Linked DNA regions of Homo sapiens. The protein of the gene in region 2 interacts with the protein of the main gene of each other region in a biochemical or structural test. Each region holds a gene or a part of one and is shown on either strand. Other genes may lie near its edges.

Region 1 (7,023 bases), about 37 Mb from region 2:
GATGGGCGCCCCCAGGACACCCATGCACAGAGGCGCTTGCCCGTGGAAACAGCCGCACCAGCAGCTCTCGGGGCTTCCTCAACCTGGAAAGCTCTTGCTTGGCTGCCCCTTCTTGAGCCCTAAAGGGAAGGTGTTTGGTCGCCTTGAAAATCTAGAGTGAGTTGGGCGTAGTGGTCCACACCTGTAATCTAGCACTGTGGGAGGCCGAGGCGGGAGGATTGCTTGAGCCCAGGAGTTTGAGACCAGCCTGGGCAACATAGCAAGACCCCATCTCTACAAAATATCAAAAAATTAGCTGAGCGTGGTGGTGCTCCTGCAGTCCCAGCTACTTGGGAGGCCGAGGCAGGAGGATTCCTTGGGCCCAGGAGTCTGGGGCTGCAGCAGTGAGCTATGATGGCCGTACTGCACCCCAGGCTGGGTGACAGAGCAAGACCCTGTCCCAAAAAAAAAGAAAAAAGAAAATCCAAGGAGTGGGTTTGAGGCCTCACTTTGGGGCTCGAATATTTGTTTTTTGGTTTTTCATTTGTTTGTTTTAAGACAAAGTCTCGCTCTGTCACTCAGGCCGAAGAGCATTGGTGCGATCTTGGCTCACTGCAACCTCTGCCTTCTGAGTCGACCCTATTCTCCTGCCCCAGCCTCCCCAGTAGCTGGGATTACTGGCACGCGCCAGCACGCCCGGCTAATTTTTGTATTTTTAGTAGAGATGGGGTTTCACCATGTTGGCCAGGCTGGTCTTGAACTCCTGATCTCAGGTGATCTGCCTGCCTTGGCCTCCCAAAGTGCTGGGATTACAGGTGTGAGCCACCGTGCTCAGCTGGGGCTCTAGAATGTTTAAAAACAGTCACCCCCTCGGTACTATGGACATTGGGACCAGATGGTTCTCTGGGGTGGGGCCGTCCTGGGCCCTGCAGGGTACTGAGCAGAGAGCCTCCACCCACTCCCTGCCAGGAGCACCTGCCACCCTGAGTTTTGACAGCCACGACTGCTTGAGGCCATGGCCCAGTGTCCTGGGGGGTGCACAGTGGCCCCTGAGTGAGGTGGCCTGGCATGGGCTTGGCTGATGTCAGCTGCCACTCCGGGTGCTCTCTCCACAGGTTCATCAAGAAACTGGAGCACACCTGGAAGGCCCTCGTCCACGATGGGGTGAGCGCCTGCACCCTCCTCCCATTCCTCCTCCCATCCCTCCTCCTCCTGTGAGTGCCTGCACCCTCCTCCCATCCCTCCTCCCTCTGTGAGTGCCTGCACCCTCCTCCCATCCCTCCTCCCATCCCTCCTCCTCCTGTGAGTGCCTGCACCCTCCTCCCATCCCTCCTCTGTGAGTGCCTGCACCCTCCTCCCATCCCTCCTCTGTGAGTGCCTGCACCCTCCCCCCATCCCTCCTCCCTCTGTGAGCGCCTGCACCCTCCTCCCATCCCTCCTCCCTCTGTGAGCACCTGCACCCCTCCTCCCATCCCTCCTCCCTCTGTGAGCGCCTGCACCCTCCTCCCATCCTTCCTCCCTGTGAGCGCCTGCACCCCTCCTCCCATCCCTCCTCCCTCTGTGAGTGCCTGCACCCCTCCTCCCATCCTTCCTCCCTCTGTCCTCCTGTCTGTCGTCCCAGCCTTCCTCCCATCCGTCACTCCACAAACGCAGAGTACCGCCTGGGGCCAGGCACTGAGGACTAACGTCTGTGTGACCACAGCCTGTAGAATCCAAGATCCCAACAGGCACCCCCATTTTTCAAAAGAGCGTGTAGAAGGTCCAGGCAGGAGCTTCCAGAATAAGCCTTGAGCGGGTCAGGATGGCAGCTGGCAGAGGCCTCTGGGGATGTCTTAAACCTTGCCAAGGCCCGGAACCTGCTGCCCAGGGCAGATAGGAGCGCTGTCTCGGCTCTGACGAGGCTGGCCAGGGTGTCCTGTGCTGCCGCCGCATGTCCCTGGGGTTGTCCTTGTCCCCTGGCCCAGAGTGGCCGGGCACCACCTCCCACTGCAGCCTGCGGGGGTGGAGTCGTTCACAGTCCTGGTACGTGGCCACTCCTCACCCAAGGAGGCTGGGAAAGGAGGTTGCATTCTGGGAGGCCGAGATCACATCCCAGCAGGGCCCCAGCCAGGCCATCCTGCCTCAGCCTCCCCTACAAGTCCACGTGGGCCACTGTGCCTGGCCGGAATACTTTATTCAGCTGGTTTAAAAAGTCAAAAATGCTAACAGGTCTCTAGTGGAAAAGCCTCCACCCATTCCCTGGCACCCAGTCTCCCTCCCCAGAGGGAGCCACTGTTCCCTGTTCCGTGAGCCCCTCCCAGGAAGCCATGGCGCCATGGACCCATCTCGAGCCTTTTCACACAGAAGGTGCCCCCCACACACATACAGCGTCTGTCTGGGGCTGTCCCCAGCTGTTGATTGATGCACCCTCTGCCCCCGGGCACCCCCCCCAACTCTCTTCCAGGACACGGTGTCCGTCCACCGCCCCAGCTTCTATGCCGAGCGCTTTTTCAAGTTCATGAGCAACACGGTCTTTCGGAAGAACTCCTGTAAGCCACCTGAGCCCCGCAAGGCGGGAGGGACCCTGGGGAAGGCCCAGAGCGCCGTGGGGCAGGAGGGACTCTGCGGGAGGCCGAGAGCCCCCTGGGCAGGGCAGTAAACTCAGAGCCCCTGTGCCCCCCTCAGACCGGGCCTCATCCGGAGGTAGGGTAGTCGGGATATTTGCTCTGCACAGCGGTAGAGCACGGGTCTGGAGCCACCGCCAGAGCCTGAATCCTAGCCTGGCCTCGTCCTGCCCATGTGGCCTTGAGCAGGCACCTGCCTCTGTGCCTTGGTTTCCCCATTGGCACAGCACTGTGAGGGTACAGTGTTTATATATGGGATGGGTGGGCCTGACTCAGCAGATAGCTCACAGTGTGTGGGGCTGCCCACAGCATCACCATCGCCAAGGAAACGCACCCCGGGCAGGGGAACGCAGGAGGCTAGCCCAGCAGGGCATGGTCGGGAAGGTCCCAGGGCAAACAGTGGTGGGGAAGGTGGGGACTCGGGATTCACCCACAGGGTGCCCGGGGGAGGTCCCCATCTCTCAGGGCTCAGCTTCCCCTCATGGGCCACTGTAGCATCTGGACGCAGACTCTGGGTTCCAGGCCCCTGTGCAGACCTCAGCCCGTGGCCAACCTGCTGCCAGATGGATTCCCCCCTGGGGTCTGTTTCTCAGCCACCCTCCCCACCAGAAGGCTCCCGGGCTCCCCAGCATCCTGCACAGGCCTGGCCCACAGAGATGCTTGGGAAGTGTCTGGTGGGGGGCATGAATGATCTGCGGGTCCGCACCCACGGGGGTTGCAGGGAGGTGGCAGGGACAGGCACGCCAGTGCCCAGCGCTTGCAGGCAGGCTGCTCTTCCCGGCCTGCACACTTGCTCACGGCCTCGAGGTCAGGGACCCCCTCTCATCAACACCGTGGGAATTGGCAGACACCACGTGTCAGGATCTGTCTCCAGAGAGCCAGCCGTTGAGCCTGTCCCCACACCCCACTCTCTGGGACCGATGCCACAGGATCATTCCGTCATCCAGGGCTGTTTGCCAGCCTTTGGTGATTGTAGGAAGCTGCACAAGGCAAACTGAGCACCTACTGTTTACCAGGAGCTGTGTGGGTCATTCTGGGGGCAGAGGTCACAAGAGCTTGGTGAGGAGGCAGAGCTCACACAGCACTGAGGACAGGCCTGGCCCTGTGCGGGACATCACCTGCCCCACCTCACCCCACCGCTAAGGTCGGCCCCCAGGGCCCAGAGAGACCGAGCCGCACAGCCAGCGGGTGAGCCTGGATCTGCGCTCAGGCCCTACATGCTGAGCCACAGGCTTCTCTAACCACAACACCTGGTGCTCCCCAAGGCTGTCAGTGTCCATCTGAAAGTGGGGGCCCTGCCCGGGCTGGGCCGCACATAGAAGGGGTTGAAGCCTGCAGGCATCCCTGGCCAGCTCATTAGATGGGAGTCACTGGTCTGCAGGATCCCAGGAGGGGCAGGCACTGTGCCAGGTCCCAGTGTGTCTCATAGAGACAGTCGGGTGGGCAGGACAGGGAACTCGGGCTCGCAGTCCCTCCCCAGGCAGACCCCGGTTTTCCACCAAGAGGTTGTGGTGCTTCCTGGCCTCAGGGACCGGTAGGGGTCTGGTGGGCCACAGGGACGTGGGGTATATGTGGGCGGCGGCCCTGTCTGGGCTTTGCTATGAGCCCCCAGCAACCCCAAGCACCAACCCCCACCCTTCCCTGCAGCCCTGAAGTCCTCGCCCTCCAAGAAGGGGCGCGGCGGAGCCTTGCTAGCTGTGAAACCGCTGGGGCCCACCGCTGCCTTCTCGGCCAGCCAGATCCCTAGCGAGCGGGAGGAGGCCCAGTACGACCTGCGGGGGGCCCGCAGCTACCCCACGCTGGAGGACGAAGGTGAGGGGCAGAGGGCAGAGTGCGCTTGTGGGCGCTACAGGGGGTGCCAGCAGCAGCCCCGTGGGTGGGGTGCCGCCTCATCCTGAGTGCCCATCGCTCAGCCACCCCCTCCGGATCTGCAGGGCCGCCTGCCCAGGGAGTGGGGGCTGCTGGGACCGCCCCAGGGAAGAGCCCAGGGGGAGCTGAGTATAGAAGGCTCCACCAGGTGGGGTGGTGACAGCTCCCGCCTTCTCTCACGGCCACTGTCATCTGAGGTGCACCAGGATGCCATCGAAGGCATGCAGCCCCCAGGCTAGGGAATGAAGGAAGGGACATAGCCATGCAAGGGCCCTGGGGCAGGACCACACCTGCTGAGGGAACAGCAAGGAGCCCGTGTGGCCAAGCAGCGCGGAGGGGAAGGGAGGGGGGGTGGGGAGGGGAAGAGAGCAGTGGAGGGGAAGACAGCGGGGAGGGAGAGTGGAGAGGGGACGGGGCCAGGCTGCACAGGGCCCTCTGGGCTGTCTGGATTCTATTTTGAGAGCGGTCAGAAGCCTTTGTGTGAGGGGGAACGTCGTCCTTCCCTGCCGTGTGGGGAGGTGGGAGTGTCTGGGAGGCGGGCGGGCACTGGGCTGTGGGTTCCCAGGGTGAGCCAAGCCTCAGGGAGAATCGACTGTGTGTTTGGGGGCTCGGAGGCTCCGCAAGGTGCCCACAGTCCTCTCCCCTCAGGCCGGCCCGACCTCCTGCCCTGCACGCCACCTTCTTTCGAAGAAGCCACTACAGCCTCCATTGCCACGACTCTGTCATCCACATCCCTCTCCATTCCTGAGCGGTCCCCCTCGGAGACGTCGGAGCAGCCGCGGTACAGGTGGGCGAGGCATCCGCAGTGCATGTGGGCGGGGCATCCGCTGTGCGTGGGGGCGGGGCATTCACTGCATGTGGGCGGGGCATCCGCTGTGCATGTGGGTGGAGCATCGTATGTACGGTGGATGTACATACACTGCATGTGGGTGCGCGGGGGCGGAGCATCCAATGTGTGGGAGGGAGGAGCATATGTACAGGTGGGCAGGGCTGCCAGGGGGCAGGTAGGCAGGCGGGTAGGCAAGGCAGGTAGACTGAGCAGGCGGGCCACTCTCTTTCTGGGTGTCACGTGTTTGCTGTATCTCTGCAGGCGGCGCACACAGTCGTCTGGACAGGATGGCAGGTGAGACCCAACCCCCTTCCTTCCCTGGGTCTCACCAGCTCCTCCTGCACAGCTCCCAGCTCCGTTTCCCGCCCCCCAGCCCCTCTGCTCTCTGCCCATTCTCTCCTGGGGACAGATTTAAGATTGTAGCACTCGGCCCTAGCACCGCACACAATCTTCCAGCCACTTTGTTTTTCTTACAGCCAGAGCCAGGGCAGCTCTGGTCTGTGGATCCTTCCTTATTTCTTCTTCTATTAAGTTTTTTTTTTAACTTAAAACAAGATACAAGAGGGAATATCGTGAAATGCGCCCCCTCCTGCCCACGGCCTGTCCCCTCCCCAGGAGCAACCACTGGGACTGTGGGTTTTGTCTCTTGGAAGATACTTTCTGGGAACACAGCAGACGTGCACCAGGCTTGTGGTTCCCTTTTATTTTGACACAAATGGGCACACCCGTGCACGCCGCCCACACCTTGCTGTTGTCACTCGACTGACGGGGATCTCAGGGGTGGGTGCGCGCCGTTCCTGTCACGCCTGCGTGCCGTCCTTCCATCCCATGGACTGCACCTGGCTTTAAGTGCCCAGCCCTCGGGGACATTTGCGAGGTCCCTGGGGTCTCACTCTTGTGAACACTGGGGCAGTGGCGCGGTGTTGCTTTTCTTAACCGTGTTTTAATCGCTGCCGCCTGGTGAAAGAAACCCCTTGGTGCCCTGGGTGGGATGTGACCCTCCCTGCAGTCTAGCGTGCCATTTGGAGAGACATGTTACATGGCCAGGCCCGGCGGCCGGGACACTGAGTCACTTGTGTCAGGGCCTCGGCTGCCAGGTGCAGGCACTGCCTGGAGGGTGGGCAGGGTCTGTGGCACCCACACCGGTCGGGGCTGCCATTTGCTCATATGCCCCCAGAGCCCGCTACACCCCAGGCCCTGCTGGCACCACAGTCACCAAGGGACCCAGGTGGACAGTCCCCGGGCTGGGAGTGACAGCCAGAAAGAACAGACCCAATCAGGAGGCTCCCAACTCCCCTCTGGGACTGGCCCTGGAGTTCACTGGGCACTCCTGGGGGTAGGATGGGGGAAGTGAGGAGGGAAACCGAGGCACAACCTCCCATTGCCTGCAGGCCGCAGGAGGAGCCACCCGCGGAAGAGGATCTGCAGCAGATTACAGTGCAGGTGGAGCCTGCGTGCAGCGTGGAGATTGTGGTCCCCAAAGAGGAGGACGCAGGGTGAGCACGGCCTCGGCGGGAGGTCGGGGCGCCCACCTGCTGCGGGCCCAGAGGAGCCAAGAGCACCCCGAGGTTTCATCATGAAGCAGTTCTTTCTTACTAGGTTGTATTCACAGATGGTGGATTTTCCCATAAGTTTATTTTTTGATTGAAGGGAGTGGTTCTCGACTAGCCGGGGTGATCCTAGCCCCCAGGGGACACTGGGCGATGCCTGGGGACATTTGTGACTGTTAGAACTGGGGGGTGC
Region 2 (7,023 bases):
AGGACCAGGCTGCTAGGGACAAGACACCTGTGACGTCCCTGCAAGGGAGACAAACAGACATCACGAGAGCCCCGAGGTGCCACCACAGGCTGTGGGAAGTCCCACCTAGAAAGCATTCTTGCCCAAAGAAGGAAAAACAGTGCTTCTTGGTGTGGTCCCCACACAGCACCTCAGCACCGCCTGGGAACTGGCAGCAATGCAAATTCCTGGGACCTACCCCCAGGCCCACTGAGTCAGAAACTCGGGGTGGGCCCAGCACTGTCTCACAAGCCCTTTGGGTGACTCTAATTCAGGTTCTAATTTGGTACCTGACTGTACAGCAGAACCACCAGGAGTGGTTCCAAAAATCTGGAGCCACCTGCAGCAACGTGAACACAGGCTCTCTCTGGGGCAAGTTTATCCCCAGGGGACACCTGAGAATGTCTGAAGTCTTTTTTTTTTTTTTCCCTTTTTTTTTTTAGCTGGGGGTCTGGCTCTGTCGCCCAGGCTGGAGTGCAGTGGTGTGAACATGGGTCACTACAGCCTCAACCTCTGAGGCTCCACTGATCCTCCCACTTCAGCCTCCTGAGCAGCTGGGACTACAGGTGCACGCCACTATGCCCAGCTAATTTATTTTTATTTTTACAGAGACAGGGTCTTGCTTTGTTGCCCAGGCTGGTCTCGAACTCCTGGGCTCAAGCGATCCTCCCACCTCAGCCTTCTAAAGTGCTGGAATTACAGGCGTGAGCTGTGGCGCCCAACCCAAAAGTCATTTTTGATTGTCACAACTTGGGGAGCTAGTATTGGCTTCAGTGGGTAGAAGCCAGGGGTGCTGCTGAAACCCTAGAATGCACAGGGCTGCCCCGACAGCGCAGAATCATCTGTCCCAAAACGTTAACAGTGCTGAGGCTGAGGAAGGCTGCCTTAGGCCCAATCGTCACATCAGGAATGAACAGCTAATTTGGTTGGCTCTGATGGCAGCACCACATGATTATATTCTTTACAGTCTTCATCTGTCAGGACACATGTTCAAGTATGGATGAGTGAAGTGACGTGTTGTCTAGGACAGGCCTTAAAGTATTCCAGAACAAGAGGGACAGGCAGAGCTAAGGAAACAAGGCTGGCTAAACGCTGATAACTGGTTAAACTGGACAATGGCTACATGGGGGTCCGTAATATTTATTTTCTTTTTAAATTTTTGAATGTCTTTGGAATCTTCCACTACAAAAAATTCAAATAAGGGAAAAAGTAGAATTCCACTCCTGGCCCGGCCTCCACCTGGGATACCCTGAGCAAAGCCCGGGACTCCCCAACAGCGACGTCCTCCCCAACAGGCCCCAGCCTCCCTTGACAGTACCTGCTGGGTGGGGCCCCGAGGCTCTCTCTCTCCACAGGCACCCCCAGCCCCTAACATAGGGTGGAGGTGGGGACTCAGCAGCAAGGCCTGCTGCTCCTCTCTGGGCCTCAGGCTCCCCCTTTTCTGACTAGGGGGAATTTGTGGGGGAAATAAGCCCACAGCAGCAGAAAGCGCGGGTAAGCGTCCAGGCCTCAGGGTCAGGCTCCAGACCGCAGCCCCCACAGAGGCTCGCGAGCGCAATTCCCGGGGCACGCACCTTGGCAATGATGACTTCCTTCCGCAGGATCTTCATGGCGTAGTAGCGGCCAGTGGCCTTCTCCCGCACCAGGATGACTTTGCCAAAGGTTCCCTTGCCAAGGAGTTTGAGATAGTCGAAGTCATTCATGGTCTGCCAGGGACAGGGAGAGTGGGGGCAGTCAGCGCCTGGCTCATGGCCCGTGGGAGGAAATTTTAACAAAAGAAAGAGGAAAACCAAAAGACACTGTTGCCAAACGGCTTAGGCTGGAGCAGGAAGGGAGGCTCTGGGCAGCAACTGTGTGTTCTGAAGCGGCCTTCAGACCAGGCTCTGCAGGCACAGGGCCTTGGGAGGGCTGGGCTCTGACGTGGGGGTAGCCAGGTCTTCACCAACTCCCAGGACGAACCTGCAGTGGGTCCACCCAAGGTTGCTCCCTCCCCTACGGGCATGGAGCACACCCTAGGGCACCTGCCACCTGAAATCACCCCACCCTGCAGGGCAGCCTTGTCTCTCAGCTGAGCCCCCTGAACTGTGTTATGGAAACCAAGGAGAGCAGGCCAGCACTGGGGGTGGGGGCACCGCAGGCTGGCAGCCCCACCCCTGCTCCCAGCACTTACCACTTTAGCCCGTGCCTTGCTGACCGCCACTTCCATCTCCTCAGTCGTGGAGGAGTCACTGGGGGAGCCACACTTGTAGTCCATGGGGTCCTCGCCTGGGGCCCGCTGCTTGAGGCTGTTGGCGACCATCTGGATGGCCCGCATCCACTCCTCCCTGTGCAGGGACACACGTGAGTCCCAGCAGCCAGGAGTCCTGGGCCTCAGAGTCGAACAGCTGAGTGCCACCTCCCAGCCACCCCCAGCAACAGGCAAGCAAATGACCACATAACCATGGGAATTTGGGCAAGATCTGTCAGAACCAGAGAGAGCTGAAGGGACCTGAGTGAAATTCCACGCCAGGCGCAGTGGCTCATGCCTATAATCCCAGCACTTTGGGAGGCTGAGGCGGATGGATCACAAGGTCAGGAGTTCGAGACCAGCCTGGCCAACATGGTGAAACCCCGTCTCTACTAAAAATACAAAAATTAGTCAGGGGTGGCATTCGCCTAATCCCAGCTACTCAGGAGGCTGAGGCAGGAGAATTGCTTGAACCCGGGAGGCGGAGGGTGCAGTGAGCAGAGATCGCACCACTGCACTCCAGCCTGGTGACAGTGCGAGACTCCGTCTCAAAAAAAAAAAAAAAGTGGAATACCAAGAGCGATCACCAATTTCCCTAAAGTGACCTGGCCTGAGGGCCATTTGAAGCCAGGCAGCAGGGAAATGATCAAAAAGGAGTGACCCTCTCTTTTCACAGCCCCTTGAAAATGAGCCACCACCCTGAGCCTTGAATGAGGGAGAGAGAGTGCTCCTGTGAATTCTTCGGAACAAATGACAAGCTCAAGTTTATAAGTTACCAATGTTTTGTAAAGTTAAACCAAGAGTAAGAAGCAGCATTCATTAGCCAAAGGAGCTGAAGACACTGCAAGGCAAGAGCTGGCCCGCAGGACTCCCTGGAGGGGACAGTCCACTGGGAGCAGGGAGTCTGCATGGCAGGGACAGAGGTCCTGGCAGCCCAGGGATGTAGAGGAGAGAAGCTGGTGGACAAGAAGTAGGTCCCAGCAGAAGGGAGCCTGGTTTAAGAACAGTTAACTAGAGGCTAAGCACTGTGGCTCACACCTGTAATCCCAGCATTTTGGGAGGCCAAGGTGGACCAAGTGCTTGAGCCGAAGCGTTCAAGACCAGCCTAGGTAACAAAGCAAGACCCATCTCTTAAAAAGTTTTTAAAAAACAAAAATAAAAAATAAAAACAGGCCAGGTGCGATGGCTCACGCCTGTAATCCCAGCACTTTGGGAGGCCAAGGTGGAGGATCACTTGAGGTCAGGAGTTCGAGACCAGCCTGGCCAACATAGTAAAACCCAGTCTCTACTAAAAATACAAAAAATTAGCCGGGCGTGGTGACGGGCGCCTGTAATCCCAGCTACTCGGGAGGCTGAGGCAAGAGGATCATTTGAACCCGGGAGGCGGAGGTTGCAGTGAGCCGAGATCGCGCCACTGCACTCCAGCCTGGACAACAGTGCGAGACTCCATCCCAAAATAATAATAAAATAATAATAATAATAATAATAATAATAATAATAATAAAATAAAGAACAATAAACTAGTTCTGTCACTCATGGTTTAGAACTTGCTGAGAAAGAACTGTCTTTGAGCTGGGCTCGGTGGCTCACACCTGCAATCCTGGCACTTTGGGAGACTGAGACGGGACGATGGCTTGCATCCGGAAGTTTGAGACCAGCCTAGGCAACATGGATACCCACTTTGTAGAGACCAAAGATAAAAAATTAGCCAGGTGTGGGGGCACATGCCTGTGGTCTCAGCTACTCAGGGGGCTAAGGTGGGAGAACTGCTTGAGCCCAGGAGGTGGAGGCTGCAGTGAGCCATGATCATACCACTGCAATCAGCTAAAAAAAAAACAAAATAATTTTCTTTGGATACTTACAAACTGTTCTGTCTAATAAGTGAAAATGACCAGAGACCAAAATGAAAAATATATTAGGCTGAATTACACCAAATTGTCCACATCCCCCATTTTTGACCACACTGCAATTAGGTGTTTCAACCCAACGCATTTTGAACCCCCCGTGTATTTTGCTTGTATCTAGAAAATACTCATATGACCAACAAGAAAAATAAAATGTTCACTAAGAATGAGAAAATTCAGAGAGTGTAATCACGCAAATCCCAGTGATTTAAATAAGCCACAGGGAGTGCAGCCAGCCCTTCACAGCATCTTCCAGGATGGCCCCCGCCCCAGGGCAAGTGTCACTGCTCCTGTGTTCCTGAGACACTGGGGCCCCTACCCAAGGTCAGGCAGGGAACAAGTGTGGCTGGGACTGGGCTTCAAAATCCAAGCCGGGACACCCTGCTGGGCTGTATTCCTCCCCAGTCTCGTTTCCTGGTGTACCACGCGAAACTACTTCTATTTCCATCCATCCCACAACGCACCCTCTTCCACATTTTGACACTGCTGGAATGCAGATTAATCTCACAGTTGGGGTCTGTCTTGATTTAACTGGGCACGCCTTTTTCTTGGCACTATATGAAACAGGGTGCCTCCCCAATGACAGCGCCTTCGATTTGATGAAATATCACAGCAGTGTTTAATACACAGGCTGTCGTGAGGTAGAATGCCTGTGAGGCATCTGTGCAATGAGACATTCTGCAGCTGGGGGAAAGATTGAGGCAGGTCTGTATGCTGACTTGGGATGATCTGAGACTTCTTAAGAGAAAAAGGAAGGTGCAGGGATGGGCAAGGTAGCTCACTCATGTAATCCCTGCAATTTAGGAGGCAGAGGCTGGAGGACTGCTTGAGCCCAGGAATTCCAGACCAGCCTAGACAACATAAGAAGACCACGCCTTTATAAAAAATTTCAAAATTAAGGAAGGTGAAGAACAGTATACAGTTCTGTGCTCCTAAGTTAGAAAATAATGAACTTCTGCAGACACATGCTCACATAGGCACAAACATCTCCAGAAGAGAAGTCATGATCCTGGAGCCCTGCCTGCCTCCAAGGGAGGGGAACTGGGAGTCGAAGGAAAGGAACAGCCTCTAATAACAAATGGGAAGCACTTGCTATCATCAACTATCCCTACTCCCACCCATTATGAAGGAGGAACTGGGGCACAGATTGAAAAAACAGATTCCAGAAAAACAGCAGTTGCTCCAGGCTTGGTAGCTGGAATTACAAAAGGCACGCTGCCCTCCCCACCCACTCAGAGACTGGAGTCCCCATAACCCATCTATGTCCACCCCACGGAGGCAGAGATTTCCACCTGCTTTGAACACAGTTCTGCCCCCAGAACTCATGGTGGATACTCAGTAGATACTTGGGTAATGAAAGAGTGAGGCAGCCAAAGTCCAAGTGGCCCCAGGGCCAGGGCGCAGCAGGGCCCAGTGCAGACCCGGGCAGAGCACGCACTGAGCCCTGGTGCACACCCGGGCAGAGCGGTGTTGGCTTCTGCACTCCCTGGCCCAACATCTCAAGCCAGTATTTCTCAACTTGCTTTAACCCATGCCCCCTTAGGAACAAATTACAGCCTAATTCCCAAACCCTACACTAATATTCCTGTTTTTCAAAAAAAAAAAAAAAAAAAAGCAGGGGCCGGGGACAGGGCAGGAGCCCATTCCATGACAGGCTTTTTTCTTTTTTGTTTCTTTTTGTTTTTGGAGACAGAGTCTCGCTTTGCTGCCAGGCTGGAGTGCAGTGGCTCCCAGGTTTAAGCGATTCTCCTGCCTCAGCCTCCAGAGTAGCTGGAACTACAGGCACCCGCCACCATAATTTTTGTATTTTTAGTAGAGACAGGGTTTCACCATGTTGGCCAGGATGGTCTCGATCTCTTGACCTCATGATCTGCCTGCCTCGGTCTCCCCAAGTGCTGGGATTACAGGTGTGAGCTGCTGTGCCCAGCCTTCCATGACATGCTTTATCAGACATAGTTGTCCTCTCACAAATTTTAAATTTTTTTAATGCTGACTCTGAGTAAATGATGGCGGATTGGGAAAAAAAAAATCACAGATCTCCTAAGAGATACAGTGAAGATATTAAAAAGGAAAATATGTCTCTCATATATAAAGATCTTGAGAGACTGTCACGTGAAGATGGCAGATTGCAGACTAAGATGTACAGCGTGGTATCATCTTTGTTTTCAAAGACAGGGGTGGAGAGAACACAGATGGTCCCTCTGTGGAGAGAACCCAAATACATGAAGGATGGCACTGCCACACCACCAGCCCAGAAGCAGCTCTGGGAGGCTACTCCAGATGGGAATCAGGAGCACAGGCCCTGGACCCACCCCAGCTGGGGCTCCAAGAGTGGCTCTGCCACCTGGACCAGCTCAGCCCTCCCAGCTCTCCCCTCCACCAGGGCCTGGGCCTGGGGCTAAGAGGTTGGCGGGCTGTCGGCGCAGAGCACCGCGCGCAGGGCGGGGTGGAAGGGAGGGTGCCGAAGACACTCGCAGGGGCGGGCCTACCCCACCTACCCTGGCTCCCACTGCCCACCCTACAGAAAGCTCCAGAAACCACAGCAATGCAGGAGGTTATCTGGGAGTAACTGGGGCTCGCCTGCTGCCTGACTAGCTTCCGATCCAATTCTAACTGGACCAAAGTTGCAAGGTTGCAGCACTCAGAATTCCAGATGAAAAGCAAGGGCCTCTGTCCAGGATCCTTCTCAAGGGTTTGCAACATGGCGTCTGGGGCAAAGGGGAGCTCCCCATGAAGCTGGGCCTCAAGTATCTTCTAGCCCCCAGAGGAGAGCCCCTGGGTAAACCACGACTGTAAAAATAACAGCACTGAGTGGCTAGCTCCAGACACCACCTCGCTTGATTCTCAAGAGCACTGCAATTCTCAAGAGCCAGC
Region 3 (7,270 bases), on a different chromosome or scaffold from region 2:
TGCTCTTGACTACTTTTTATTTTTGCAAAAATGAGAAAGCACATTTTATCAGGAATCCATCACCTGCAACATAATTTATATTTATTAGAAATACCTATATTTCTAATAAATACAGATTATTTATATATATTTCTAATAAATACAGAAATTTTGTGTGACAGTTGTGGTAGCTGTCCAAATAATTAGCTTCATCTAAAATTATTTCAGCCCAAACTCAAATCCCAAGAAAAATCATTTCGATGGAAATACTTCATTTCATTCACTATAAAGCCCAACATAAAGCTAGATGTTTTAGTGTAGTCCTAAGTGACATTTTGTTGCTACAGCAACGAAACTCTGCTACCTGTAGCCATGATTTGTTAAGAATTCCACCAACGAGTAAATTCTGTGCTGTGTATTCATAAAACCAATAGAATGATTCTAAGCAACATAAAAATTAAGGCTTGATTTCCTATTTATGATTTACCCACACACATACTTACAACATATATACTACATATGTACTACATACATGTAATTATGACTCTGAGCCCCATCAAAATGATAAAATACCAAATTTCCATTTTAAAATGGGCACAGAACAAAAGCTGGTTTAGATTTCATTCACTAATTGCTACTTGTTTCCCAAAATTTATCTTAAAAGATAACAGAGACTATCTAGAGATAATTTTCAAAACAATAAAATTTATTATTTATATCCAATCTCATTCCAAGATGGGGGAAAAAAATATTCAGAGGTATAATCTATCTGTTCCAGTATGTATGGTTTCCTAAGCAATGAGTTGACTTCGAAAACACCAAGCTAAAGAATAAAGAAAAAATGTGGACATTACCACCTTTATTCACCAAACTACCTCTGTAGGCTACTTACCCTCACTGGGGGGCTCCAGGATTGCACCCGAGGCTGCTGTCCGCCCTGGGAGCTCTGCAGATCTTTTGAGCTACAATTAGCCACAGTGCTGCTCTGAGACCTTAATGCATTTGTGCAGTTGGTCCCACTTCCCCCACCAGGACCAGGTTTCCAAGGCCTCTGTTTGATGCCATCCAGAAGTCTGACCAGCAAGATGTTACTGGGAAGCTCCTCGACACCCGAGCCAACAAGAGTCCTGCACTCGGGACATCTGAGTTCATTTCGAGAACCTACGATCCCCAGCAAACATCGCTTGCAAAACGTATGCTGGCAAGGCAAGACCTTCGCAGAAGCATCAAGGCGCTCTAGACACACCGGACACTCCAAAAGATCCAACAAGGCTGATTCATCCATCTTTATCTACTTTACTGAGAAAAAATCTTCAGAAATGTTCATAGTTGTGTGCATCCCTTAAAATGACTCATGTAACATCCATTTCAGACTTTGCTCTAGAGTCATGGGGAAAAGGGGGAAAAGAGAACATGAGTGTTGTTATCTAGGGAAAAAGTTCAAAGGAGCCAAGAATCAAAAAGTACCCAAAAGTACACTATTCCCTGTCTGAATAGTGTAGCTTTGCTTTGGAATGTGGGTTCCTAAACTCCAAAGTCAACAACTGAAAACAAAACAGGCTTTCTAAACAACGCAAAATTAACCCCTAAAGATATCTAGGGATTCACTGGGCAAACACAAGGCACAGAGTATTACATAATTCCCGCAGAAGGATTTATGAAGTGCAATAAGGAACATAATTTCTTAAGCTCTGAAAGTGGTATCAGCTGCCTTAATAAAGTCTTCAACTCATAGGAGAAGCTGACAGAGGCCATTGAAAGTTTCCTCTACCTGAAATTTACTTTTATATCCAACTAAATTCCCTTTTTTAAGCCACTTTAGCGTTTAAGAAACCATGCCTCATGTAATCGCTCGTGGTAAATGATCCCAATATTAAATACATATGTTTCTTCGCTGTTATTAAAAATAGAACTGTTTAATTTTGCCCAACCAAAAAGAGCTGAAGGTTGACAATTCTAAAAGACACAGATTTGCTTGAAAGCAGCTAAAACAGAAAAGCGCCCTTCAGGGCAGTAGTTGATAAACTCTGAAACACATTTCTGAACGGCCTGTCCTAATCCCATTCAGAAAAGCTGGCAAAATTATCACCAAAAGAATTCGACAATGGAAGGTTGGACTGGAAACTGTGGGCATATGAAAATGAGGCCATTCAGGAAAAAGCAAGCCACTTACTGCGCCGCTCTCCCCCCACCGCCAAAATAAATGTAAAAGTGAATGCCCAGGAGAACGGGAGTAAAAAGATTTGGCTGGGAGCATTAACAGCTGTTCTTGACAAAGCCGGAGCGGGGGAGCCCCAGGGCTGCACCCCCGCTCCCACGGCGCCAAGCACAGGTACTCCCAAGCCCGCAGGGAGGCGCGGCGGCCGCTCGCCGCAGACACACCCCGGGGCCAGGTGTCGGCGGCACCCGGCAGGAGCCGGTCGCGGCCTGGGGCTGCGGCCCGGCCGGTCCCGGCGTGGGGATCTCACCCTACAGCCTCCCTCATCTCCGCCTCCCTTTAGCTCAGGCCGGGGACACAAATCCCTCTACACGACTGCGGGAAGTTTTCAAGGACTTAAAAATAAATGCGCAGGCTTAAGTTGCGAAACTCAGCCCCACAGAGTGCCACGGGGAAGCAGCTTTCTAGCCCAGCCAAGATAAGGCGACAGTCCCCAGAGAGACCGCGCCATCCGGGAAGCAGGGGGTGCTGGGCTGCGCCCGGGGAGACCGCGGCACGGAGCCCTGGCAGCTTCCTGCCCGGAGAAGGCAGAGGCCGCGGGCTGCTCCGCTTCCGCAGGTCCTGATTCCCGGCCCACGGGGACCCGAGGGCGAGGGGAGAGAGAGACCGACCCAGGGCGGGGATGGGGGAATGTCGAGACCACCGCCTTCTCCGCGGCTAGGGGTCCGCCGACGCTGGGTCCCCGTCGACCCCGCGCCGGCCGCGCGCCCTACCTCGCGCCTCGGCTCCTCCTCTTTGTTCGCGGCCCCGCAGCGGCTGCGGCGGCTGATGCAGATGCGGCCCCACCGCGCTCGCCGCTCGCAGTGTCTCTGACGCCGCGGCGGCACCGGGAGACTCCTCTCTGCTGCCCCCCTCACGCGCGCACACACACCACGCCGCCGCCGCCGCCTCCCACTTTCCCAGCCAAGGAGGGCGGAGGAAGAGGAGGAGGAGGCCGGGACGCAGCCGGCGCCCGGGGCGCAAGGGGGCGGCCCCGCGCCACAGCGCCTTCCCCGGGAGCGGGCGCGGCACCTCTCGGAGCCACCCGCCGCCGCGCCGGCCTCCCGCGCTGAGGTGACCTGCGCCCAGTACCCCGCCGGAGCCCGGGGGCGGGATTGGGGCGGCGGCCTGAGGGGGCGCTGCAAGAGCCTAGAGGATGGGGAGCGGGGCCCCCAGGGGACTACGAGGGGAAGGCTCGGGGACGGACGCCTTCTCCCTGAGGAGAACGCGCCTGAAAAATGGAGCCACCGGACGGGAAGGCGGCGGGAGTGGAGGCTGGGGGAAGCAGGAAGAAGCCCCGGGACAGGGTCCCGCCGCCTCCTCCTCCCCCCGGCGGGGCTGGGAGCCCTGGACGGACCCTTCCTCCCCAGGCTGGGCGAGTCGCGGCGCGGGAGGGGCTGGGTCCGCGGAGGCGGCGGGAGCAGCCCTGGCGGGAACCGATCCCGCTGCGCTTTGCGTCTGGTTGCCCACCCCGGACACTTACTTGGTAGAGTCGGAGCGAAGTGTTGCCCCTTAGGGCCGAGAGCGGCGTGGTGAATCGATGGGGACAGTGCCGCGGCCACCTGTCCGCACCCAGCCATCAGTCACCCCAGGACCCAAACCGGAGCAAGCCTGGAGGACCGCTGACCCCAAAGCCCAAGACTAGGAAAACGGTAGTACGGACTTCCAACCCAGGCTCGGGGGCTCTGTTATCCCTGCCCTAAGTGGGGAGAATTGAGTCTGACCTCAGGTGGGCTGGCACCGCAAAGCACGCTGAGAGGCGCCTCTTTTATCTGAGCCTGGGTGGCTGCCATCATCGCAGTAATCTTTGTTTTGGTTGCCCCAAGCACACACCTGTAAACCGAAGTGGAGTTTTGAAAAACATCTTGTCCATAGGTTTTGAGGTTTTTCAGTCTCGATTTAGTGGAGAAGCAAGTTAAAATTTTGTCACTGATCTAAAGTTGACATTACTATATTTGCATTTACCATCAATTTACAAAAAGTTATCCCAAATACCCCTCCTCAAAGGTGGGCAGAAACTAGGTGGTTATAAGAAGAAAGGGTTACAACAGATGATGCAAGAAATCTCTGCCCAGCCACCAACTAGGTTTATGATTTGACGAGGAGTCTCAGTTTATCCTCTAGTCTCCAGCTAGGGCCACAGCTAAACCATTCAAGACATAAGGATCACATAAGCCTGAAAAAATTATGACAGCTAACAATGATCACTCACTGTAAATCAGGCACTGTGCTGAACATTTTTCATGCATCAGTTCAATTCTCTCAGCAACCCTCTATGTCATCTTTTCTCAGCCTTGTTCTAAATAGATTCATATGCTGAGAGTCATAATGTATGAAAACCAAAAATAATAGCCCACTTCCCCTTCCATTAGAAGTGAGCAAATACATGGGCATTTGAGCTGAGAAAGACGACGGAAGGAATGAATGGAATGGAGAATTTCTAGTCCAGTTTGCAAACTGAAAGTTACTACTTAGTTCTGCATGTGGAACTGGGCAGATAGATGAAGATGAGGCTGACCAGAAGATTACAGTCAATAAACAGATAGGGATTATTTGCAGTTATTAAAACTGAAGCTCAAATAGGTTAACTTTCCCCTGGTCACACAGTAAGTAATGTTGAACCAAGACTCAGTCCCAGCTCTCTGGATTCCAAGTCCAGTTCTCTTTGCACCATTCCAAGGCCCTGTCTTTTGCACAGGACCGTCATATCCCCACCCTAGGCAAAGCAAAGCAGTGTGTCTCTTCCCAAGGGAAAGAAGAAACTGTTAATCATGTAATTACTCGAAAGCAAGGGACAGTTTTTATTGTGTTCTTATTTTGGTTTCCTATGTATTTTTAGAGAGCAGCACACAAGGTCATAGATAGAATGGTGCAGCTCTTGAAACTCCTGGCAAAAGAAAATCAATAGTCACACCCATTTTCTTTTCTTTTCTTTTTTTTTTTTTTTTTGAGACGGAGTTTCACTCTTATTGCCCAGGCTGGCACCCACCACACCCAGCTAATTTTGTATTTTTAGTAGAGACGGGGTTTCTCTATGTTGGTCAGGCTGGTCTCGAACTCCTGTGACCTCAGGTGATCTGCCCGCCTCAGCTTCCCAAAGTGCTGGGATTACAGGCGTGAGCCACGGCGCCTGGCCACACCCGTTTTCAAAGAACTGAAGACAGTGTGTCCCAAGACTGCAGTGGTCGAAGAATCTGGCATACATCTCATGAATATTATCTGGGATGTGGCTGCAGTTCTTTGAATGCCCCTGGTGCATGTTCTATAGTTTTTAGAACACAACACTTTTATTAGCTTTAGTTACTCCAGCTGTAAAGTGAAGTTTTAGGCAAGTTACTTTAACCTCCTGAGCCATTTTCTGTCAAATGGTTGAAAAAAAAAATATCTTTCTCAGAGTGTTGTGGGATGACTAGATGAGACAACATGCTGGTTCTTTGTAATCTGTATATCTCTATTAAAGTCAGATAGCATCATTATCATAATCTGCCAAGAATCACCCAGGCAGTTATTCTGGGCAAAGTCCTTTCTTCCCAGGGTCTTAAAAAAGTTTGGGATAGGCCAGGCACGGTCACTCACACCTGTAATCCCAGCACTTTGGGAGGCCGAGGCAGGTGGATCACCTGAGGTCAGGAGTTCAAGACCAGCCTGGCCAACATGGTGAAAACCTGTCTCTAGTAAGAATACAAAAAAAAAAAAAAAAAAAAAAAAATTAGCCAAGCATGGTGGCAGTCACCTGGAATCACAACTACTTGGGAGGCTGAGGCAGGAGAATTGCTTGAACCTGGGAAGTGGAGGTTGCAGTGAGCCGAGATTGCGCCACTGCACTCCAGTCTGGGTGACAAAGCAAGACTCTGTCTCAAATAAATAAATAAGTTTGGTATAATTCTAGTAATTGCAAAGTCCTGTCAATAATATAGGGAAAGGGGCAGTTGGGGAAGAGAAGCATGTTCATCTTTTCATGTCTGGGAACTGAACATGAAGGAAGGAATGTAAGCATGTTGTGCTTAAGATCCCTGTGACTTTGAGTAGAACCATGAAAAACATAAAACACACCCTGTGACATAATAATGATAGCTTGCGTTTACACAGTTCTTATCCTCCCAAGACTTCAAAGGACTTTCATATATATTATCTCATCTGTCTTCTCAGCATCCCTCAGAAGCGGTAAAGACAGATATGATTATTTCCATGTAGACGGGAAACAACAAGATGTAGATAAGTTATTGCTCTAAGTGGTGACAAAAATCAGATACTTAAATATCCAATCCAGAGCACTCTTTGGTAAACTTTGGTACTATGCTTTCACACGGATATATATACATGTGTCTGATTATCATTTTCCTTCAAACCTTGTTTCTTCTCCAGTTGCCATGATATTGGTAAATGATAGCACTCTTCATTCAGTTGTTCAAACTAGAAACCTAGGGGTCATCTTTGATTTCCCTTTTCCTCTCCATCAATTCTGCTAGCTTCTCCCAAAATATATTTCAATTTATACCCACTTTCCTTTGCCTCCAGTGCAAGTTTATTTAAGCCACCATCACCCTTTGTCTCTGTCCGTCCTAAACCAGCCTCTCTGTTTCCACTCTTGTCCCCATAATCTCGCCCAGAATGTAGTAACATTCAGAGTGAGCAACAAAAAATGCATAACATATCAGTTACTACATTGCTCCAAACTCATCAATTACTTCCCATCATGCCTGAAATTTAGAGTCAAACATAGTCTTTGTCTTACAAGACTCACTGCCACTTGGACCCTGCACCACTGCATCCCAGCATAGTACTCTTTCTGTCTTCTTTGCAGCACTTTTTGTGGTCTAATTTTTTTGATTCCTTATTTATTGCCTATCTTCTTTACCTGAATATAAGTTCCCTGAAGTCAGTGACTGGGTCTGTCTTCTTTACCATTACGTCCTTCACAGCCAACACATAGTGGGTTCCAGTAACTAATTCTCAAATAAGGAGTTAATCAAGTATACAGTTACATTTCTTGCTATCCTAAATCTACATAGATATTTAGTACCTCACTGCCCTACAGATGGGAAATCAGGCAAGCAATGTTCCAAGTTCCATTGAGAGTCTTTCTTATAAACT
Region 4 (7,023 bases), on a different chromosome or scaffold from region 2:
AGAAGCAGAGCAGCAAAGAATATGAAGACTTTTAAAGCTCATGGTAAGTTTTTTGTTTTTTTTTTGAGACAGAGTCTCACTGTCACGTAGGTTGGATTGCAGTGGCACAGCCATAGCTCTGAAACCTCAAACTCCTGGGCACACGCCACCAAGCTCAGCTAATTTTATTTTATTTTATTTTTATTTTTTGGAGATGGAGTTTCGCTCTTGTCGCCTAGGCTAGAGTGCAGTGGCATGATCTTGGCTCACTGCAACCTCCACCTCCCGGGTTCAAGTGATTCTGCTTCCTCAGCCTCCCAAGTAGCCCAACTAATCTAAAAATTTTTTGTAGAAGACTGGGCGTGGTGGCTCATGCCTGTAATCTCAGCACTTTGGGAGGACGAGGCAGGTGAATCACGAGGTCAGGAGTTTGAGACCGACCTGGCCAACATAGTGAAACCCCGTCTCTCCTAAAAATACAAAAAATTAGCCGGGCGTGGTGGTGGACGTCTGTAATCCCAGCTACTCGGGAAGCTGAGGCAGGAGAATCACTTGAACCCGGGAGGCGGGGGTTGCAGTGAGCCGAAATTGTACCGTTGCACTCCAGCCCGGGCAACCGTGCGAGACTCCGTCTCAAAAAAAAAAAAAAAAAAAAAGAAAATTTTTTTTTTGTAAAGACAGGTTTTCACTATGTTGGCCAGGCTAGTCTTGAACTCCTGGCCTTAGTGCTGGGATTACAGATGTGAGCCACTGTACCAGGCCCTAAAAGTTTTTTGTTTGATTAGTTTTTAATTTTTTTTAGATCATTTAGATCTAATCAAAAGTGGCCTGCCAGTTGCTACCTAAAAAAGAGCCTTGGCCTGGCACAGTGGCTCATGCTTGTAAACACTTGAGGGTGGGGGTTCAAGACCACCCTGGGCCAAATAGCAAGACCTCATCTCTACAAAAAATAAAATTAGCTGGGCGTGGTGGCATGCACCTGTAGTCCCAGCTATTCAGGAGGCTAGGGCAGGAGGATCGATTGAGTCCAGGAGTCTGTGGCTGCAGTGAGCTATGATCACACCACTGCACTCCAGCCTGGGTAACAGAACGAGGCTTTGGCTCTTAAAAAAAAAAAAAAAAAGAGCCTGGGAGTGATGGAAGACTATCCTGAATTACAGTTACCCTTCTTTTAGTTTTGATTTATAGTAACTACGTATTAAATTAGGGAGAATTTGCAAGTCCAAAATCCAGCTGATCAAACAAGCATCTTTTAAGAATACTGCCTGGAACCTAGGTGGGGAAAAAGCATGTTTGGAATTACCTTGCCCAAACCAGACAGTTCTGCAAAAGATCATCCATTGAGCCAGAAAATCTTAAGCTTATAGTAGATGCCTTGTCCATATTTATATGTTGTTTTGAAAATCAAAATCAAAATAAACCTTGTTAATTACTAAGAACAGATAATGATCTTTAGAAAATTAATTGATTTTATATGTAGATATGTATCTTAGTGATTCATCTATGATAGAACAGTGAAGACAAACCCCAGTCCCAAATGGGATCTTCTGTTTTTGCATAATATGAATTAATCATGAGATGTGCCTTTCCTCCCAACATTTTGATGTCTCTGATTGGGATTCCTCTTAGAGTTGATGGTATATTAACAATTGCTATCAGCCAGGTAGCAGTAGTAATGTATTTCACATTGCCTGCAAATGTACATACTTGGTTGTTTCTCCTAGTAGCATACTGGCCAAGTGTAGTCTCTCAGTGTTCAACTAACAGATCAATTTTGCCACCATTTGAGAAAGGAATATCAGTCCTGGTTGTTGTCCGAAAACCTTCTTTTGACACCTGGTGAGATGTCAAATGACATCATCAAAATTTGCTGAATGAGTATCAGTTTCTTGGAAGAAAATATTAGGGACAAAAATGGAGTACTTCTAAGAAATACTTACCTCCTCATGGCACAGAGAATGATAATGTATAGGAAAACATGCATATTGATGACTCTCGAGTTGAAAAGTGGTTCATGGGCCCGGTGCGGTGGCTCACGCCTGTAATCCCAGCACTTTGGGAGGCCGAGGCGGGCAGATCACAAGGTCAGGAGATCGAGACCATCCTGGCTAACACGATGAAACCCCGTCTCTACTAAAAATACAAAAAATTAGCTGGGTGTGGTGGCTGGCACCTGTAGTCCCAGCTACACGGGAGGCTGAGGCAGGAGAATGGCATGAATCCGGGAGGCGGAGCGTGCAGTGAGCCAGGATCACACCACTGCACTCCAGCCTGGGCGACACAGTGAGACTCTGACTCAAAAAAAACCAAAAAACAAAAAAACAAAAAAGAAAAGTGGTTCATAAGATTCGAACTCTGTGAAGTTTTAGAAATAAATTTATGATGCTTATATTTGTTATGTTTACATGAGAGCTGTATATGATAAAATTCTGTGTGAAGGTCTGTTTTCATAAATATAAGGTAAAAAATTCAAGACATAAGAAAACCTTAAATCATAGCTTAATTGCCAGCATTGTTTTGTTTGAGTAGTACAAAAATGAAAATGATGCATCTTACAATGGATACCATCGTAGATTTGATGAAATGGTACCATATTGATTCTATTTTTTAAGCTACTAACTTTAAACAAACAGCAATTATCCAGTGTTGAAGTTGATATTGTTAGCTTAAAATAGGGAATCTGTTTCAACTTGCTTTGCGCTAAGAAGAGCTTTTAAATTTAATTATGCTACAAGTTTTTACATAAATATGTAACTCCTTGAATTGGAATTACCCATTTTTAGAAAAAAAAAAAACAAAACAGAAACGAAGCGGCAGATTTTTTTTAAGAATGGCACTAGCCAAACAAGATTTCCTGATGCTTTCTTTTTTACATCTTAAAATAGCACTATATGGAATTGTAGTGGAGTGTTTGAAAAATATTCTGTCAAATCTAAATCTCTGAGGCCTGGGGAAGTGGAGGACTGAAAATAGGGACTTACTGGCATCATGATTTTGTGTCCTTTCCCCTTCTTTATACTATATTGACTTAGCTTCCTCCTCTGAAAATAGGAAGCTAAGGAATAAGTTGATTTAAGAAAAAAAAATTTTTGGCCATGTGTGGTGGCTCACACCTGACCTGTAATCCCAGCACTTTGGGAGGCTGAGGTAGGAGAATTGCTTGAGCCCAGGTGTTTGAAACCAGCCTGAGCAGCATAGTGAGACCCTGTCACTACAAAAAATAGAAAAAAAGTAGCCAGACATGGTGGCACATGCCTGTAGTCCCAGCTACCTGGGAGGCTGAGGTGGGAGGATTTTTTGAGCTCAGGAGGTCAAGGCTGCAGTGAGCCGAGATCATGTTACTGCTCCAGCCTGGGAGAAGAATGAGACCCTATCTCAAACAACAACAGCGACACCCACAACAGTTTCTAAGGCTGAGGCATAAATTATTTTTAGAATAAAAATATATCTTTTAGATTTTAAGCTGCAGTTATCTCCAGTAGTTATTGGTATTTTCATTCTTCCCCTGGGCCTTTGGGATGTAATGTGAGTATGTCTACCTTGCCTTTGATAGCCTTAGTTTCCTTATCTTTGACAAATTTTTATTGACATTCTTTTTTTTTTTTTTTTTTTGAGACGGAGTCTCCCTCTATTGCCCAAGCTGGAGTGCGGTGGCATGATCTCGGCTCACTGCAAGCTCCGCCTCCCAGGTTCACGCCATTCTCCTGCCTCAGCCTCCTGAGTAGCTGGGACTGCAGGGGCCCGCCACCATGCCTGGATAATTTTTTTGTATTTTTAGTAGAGATGGGGTTTCACCGTGTTAGCCAGGATGGTCTCAATCTCCTGACCTCGTGATCCACCCGCCTCGGCCTCCCAAAGTGCTGGGATTACAGGCGTGAGCCACCGCACCCGGCCTGACATTCTTAACATTTACTTATAAGCTTTCCCCCTTAAAATAAAGATAATTTAAAAAAATTTTTTTATTTTGAGACAGAGTCTTGCTTTGTCGCCCGCCCAGGCTGAAGTGCAGTGGCGTGATCTCGGCTCACTGCAACCTTCACCTCCCAAGTTCAAGCTATTCTCTTGCCTCAGCCTCCTGAGTAGCTGTGACTACAGGCACGTGCCACCACACCCGGCTAATTTTTTGCATTTTTAGTAGAAACGGGGTTTCACTGTGTTAACCAGGATGGTCTCAATCTCCTGACCTCATGATCTGCCTGCCTCGGCCTCCCAAAGTGCTGAGATTACAGGCATGAACTACTGTGCTCGGCCTAAAATGAAGATAATTTTTAAATGTGCATGGTAGAAAAATGACAAAACAAAACAAAAGCCAAACAATATAGACATGTATAAAGAAGAAGAAAGGAAAACCCCCAAATTGTGCATTCGGAAAAACCTAGTTAGCATTTTATATGCTGAAGAGTCGGCCATGTTGGGGAGGGTGTACTGTGGTATTTTTAGATTAGGACAGGAAGGGGTTTGGCCTCTTCTAGCAAAAACTGTAGAAGAAATAATCATACTAAATTATCCTGAAGTAAGACATTTAAAATATTTATACTACATGGAATGCTGTTAATTTAGCTTTGAACGTTTCTGTTGATTTGTTCTTAGTTTATAGAATTTTTAGTTTATGAAAATATACCTCTGTTGTTTCTCCTAAAGTTTGTGTGACATAGTTGGAAAATACCTCTGCTTTGTTGAAGTGAAACTAAGAACAAAAAAAAAAGACTTCTTAACATTACTATCAAAAGAGACAAAATAGATTAAAACTCAGAATTACTAGAACTTTAATATCCTACGATTTTTGCTTCCTTTAGAAAAAATATTTTTCCATCTGATTTGTATAATGATTAACATAAACTTATTGCTATTGTTTTATACAGACAAGGTCTTTACTAGGTGTATTTGAAGAAGATGCCACAGCTATTTCCAACTATATGAACCAGTTGTATCAAGCTATGCATCGGATTTATGATGCACAGGTAAAACACTAAGGACTAACTTGATGCTTTTAAAACACGAATCTTTAAGCCTCATGAGGACAGATAGTGTCTGTCTTGTTTACCACTGCTTTAGCCCTGTGTTAGGCTCATAGTAATAAATATTTGTTGAATGGATTAATGAACATTGAGTGTATTACAGAACTGACATTTCAACTACTAGTGTACAGTTTGTAGTACTACAAAAGTGATAGACGATTGAAGCATCTGCCCATTCTCCCCAAACATAGTTTGGGGGGAACCCCCCATTAAACTCACTGATAGTGATCTTTCCTAAGATTTGAATGAAGACCCCATGTCATCACTGGTATTTTCCCTAATCATGCTTATTACAATCTTATGGAGCACTTCCCCACCCCCACTTTTTTTTTTTTTTTTTGAGATGGAGCTTTGCCCTTGTTGCCCAGGCTGGAGTGCAGTAGTGTGATCTTGGGTCACCACAACCTCCACACCCCAGGTTCAAGTGAGTCTCCTGCCTCAGCCTCTCAAGTAGCTGGGATTACAGGCATGCACCAGCACGCCTGGCTAATTTTGTATTTTTAGTAGAGACAGGGTTTCTCCATGTTGGTCAGGCTGGTCTCGAACTCCCGACCTCAGGTGATCCGCCCGCCTTGGCCTCCCAAAGTGCTGAGATTGTACCCAGCCCCCTTTTTTTTTTTTTTGGAGATGGAGTTTTGCTAATGTCTCCCAGGCTGGAGTGCAATGGTGCAATCTCAGCTCACTGCACCCTCCACCTCCCAGGTTCAAGCAATTCTTCTGACTCAGCCTCCTGAGTAGCTGGAACTACAGGCATGCACTACTACGCCCAGATAATTTTGTATTTTTAGTAGAGGCAGGGTTTCACCATGTTGGCCAGGCTGGTCTCGAACTCCTGACCTCAGGTGATCTGCCCGCCTCGGCCTCCCAAAGTGCTGGGATTACAGGCGTGAGCCACTGCACCTGGCCAACACTTTCCCTTTTTCAGTGGAGGATTTGAAAGTTGGCTGCCTCTGTCTAGTTAAAAGAAGGCACTAAAAATTAGATGTACCTCTGGAGTACAAGAAGATGAAGGGTATGACTAAGTTTTCTTATTGACCAGCAATAAAATTTGAAGCTATGTTTGGATAACTTAATTATAAGCTTAAACAGCAACCTAGGTTCTGTAATATACTTTCTTTGGGATTAATTAAGCGTACAAGTTTTATTTTTTTCCCTTCTCATATTGTTTGCTTTCTGGCTTCACATTTTCATTATGTACTTAAGAGTTGCTATGTTGTTGTTTAGTTTTTCCTTGTGATCAGGCTCTGAAGCTTTGCTTTCTGACTACAGAGATATATGATTAATATGTTAAAGAAATGTTCTCTTTGTTATATTCACCAAAAAAACTAAATTAAAGTTTTTCATATGGCTGTGTTGCTATGTTATATGACTGGGTCAACCACATTTTGGTTGTATGTTATTAAGTGCTTACTGTAGTCTAGTATCAGCATCTACAGAGGGCAATAATCAGTCATCAACGTAGATGCTCTAAAGATTTTGCTAAGGTTATATCAGTTTATTTCTAGGCTTTAAAGTATTTAGTGCTTAGTTTTTATTAGCAAAAAACAAACACCAGGAACACTGCTGAATTCCTGGAGAGTGTCTATTTTATGGTTTGAGTTTTCTTTTAAAGTGCTTTAATGGTAGTACCCCTTTCCAGTGATTTAATGAAGGTTTTAAAAAACATGTACAATATTTATGTTAAGTGATAATAAATAAATTAGGTATTTAATTAGAAAAAACTAAAACTTTTTTCCCAGTAATATGCTAATTTGAATGCTTTTTCCATAGAATGAATTAAGTGCAGCAACACACCTGACCTCAAAACTTTTAAAAGAATATGAAAAACAGGTATTGTATATCAAAGTTTTAAAAGCATAATTTTAAAAGTATAGTATCTGTATAGATAGACTTTCAACAAGAATCCTTAAGTTTTCTTGAATTCACAGAATATGCCATTGAAATTTCATGATAGCACTTATGTTCAGATAATTTTAATGATTTAATATTAAATACAGAGGCTATCTAGTTTACTTGTTTTCTTTTT

What was found.
Region 1: of the proteins of AKT2 (region 2) and PIP5K1C, one has a biochemical effect on the other in vitro, tested with the Homo sapiens proteins (one study listed by BioGRID).
Region 3: the proteins of AKT2 (region 2) and SH3RF1 form a complex in vitro, tested with the Homo sapiens proteins (2 studies listed by BioGRID and IntAct, with this or other methods).
Region 4: the proteins of AKT2 (region 2) and APPL1 form a complex in vitro, tested with the Homo sapiens proteins (one study listed by BioGRID).

Annotation. Positions count from the first base shown.
Region 1 is NC_000019.10:3,641,458-3,648,480, reverse strand, and holds part of PIP5K1C (phosphatidylinositol 4-phosphate 5-kinase type-1 gamma), read left to right. Parts: intron 1-1,094; coding exon 1,095-1,143; intron 1,144-2,422; coding exon 2,423-2,507; intron 2,508-4,229; coding exon 4,230-4,394; intron 4,395-5,099; coding exon 5,100-5,238; intron 5,239-5,541; coding exon 5,542-5,574; intron 5,575-6,671; coding exon 6,672-6,776; intron 6,777-7,023. UniProt on the Homo sapiens protein: Catalyzes the phosphorylation of phosphatidylinositol 4-phosphate (PtdIns(4)P/PI4P) to form phosphatidylinositol 4,5-bisphosphate (PtdIns(4,5)P2/PIP2), a lipid second messenger that regulates several cellular processes such as signal transduction, vesicle trafficking, actin cytoskeleton dynamics, cell adhesion, and cell motility.
Region 2 is NC_000019.10:40,240,346-40,247,368, forward strand, and holds part of AKT2 (RAC-beta serine/threonine-protein kinase), read right to left. Parts: intron 2,343-7,023; coding exon 2,189-2,342; intron 1,725-2,188; coding exon 1,593-1,724; intron 1-1,592. UniProt on the Homo sapiens protein: Serine/threonine kinase closely related to AKT1 and AKT3. All 3 enzymes, AKT1, AKT2 and AKT3, are collectively known as AKT kinase.
Region 3 is NC_000004.12:169,267,949-169,275,218, forward strand, and holds the start of SH3RF1 (E3 ubiquitin-protein ligase SH3RF1), read right to left. Parts: upstream 3,009-7,270; 5' UTR 2,911-3,008; intron 1,360-2,910; 5' UTR 1,265-1,359; coding exon 872-1,264; intron 1-871. UniProt on the Homo sapiens protein: Has E3 ubiquitin-protein ligase activity. In the absence of an external substrate, it can catalyze self-ubiquitination. Stimulates ubiquitination of potassium channel KCNJ1, enhancing it's dynamin-dependent and clathrin-independent endocytosis.
Region 4 is NC_000003.12:57,230,725-57,237,747, forward strand, and holds part of APPL1 (DCC-interacting protein 13-alpha), read left to right. Parts: exon of another isoform or gene 1-40; coding exon of another isoform or gene 41-43; intron 44-4,841; coding exon 4,842-4,940; intron 4,941-6,767; coding exon 6,768-6,827; intron 6,828-7,023. UniProt on the Homo sapiens protein: Multifunctional adapter protein that binds to various membrane receptors, nuclear factors and signaling proteins to regulate many processes, such as cell proliferation, immune response, endosomal trafficking and cell metabolism.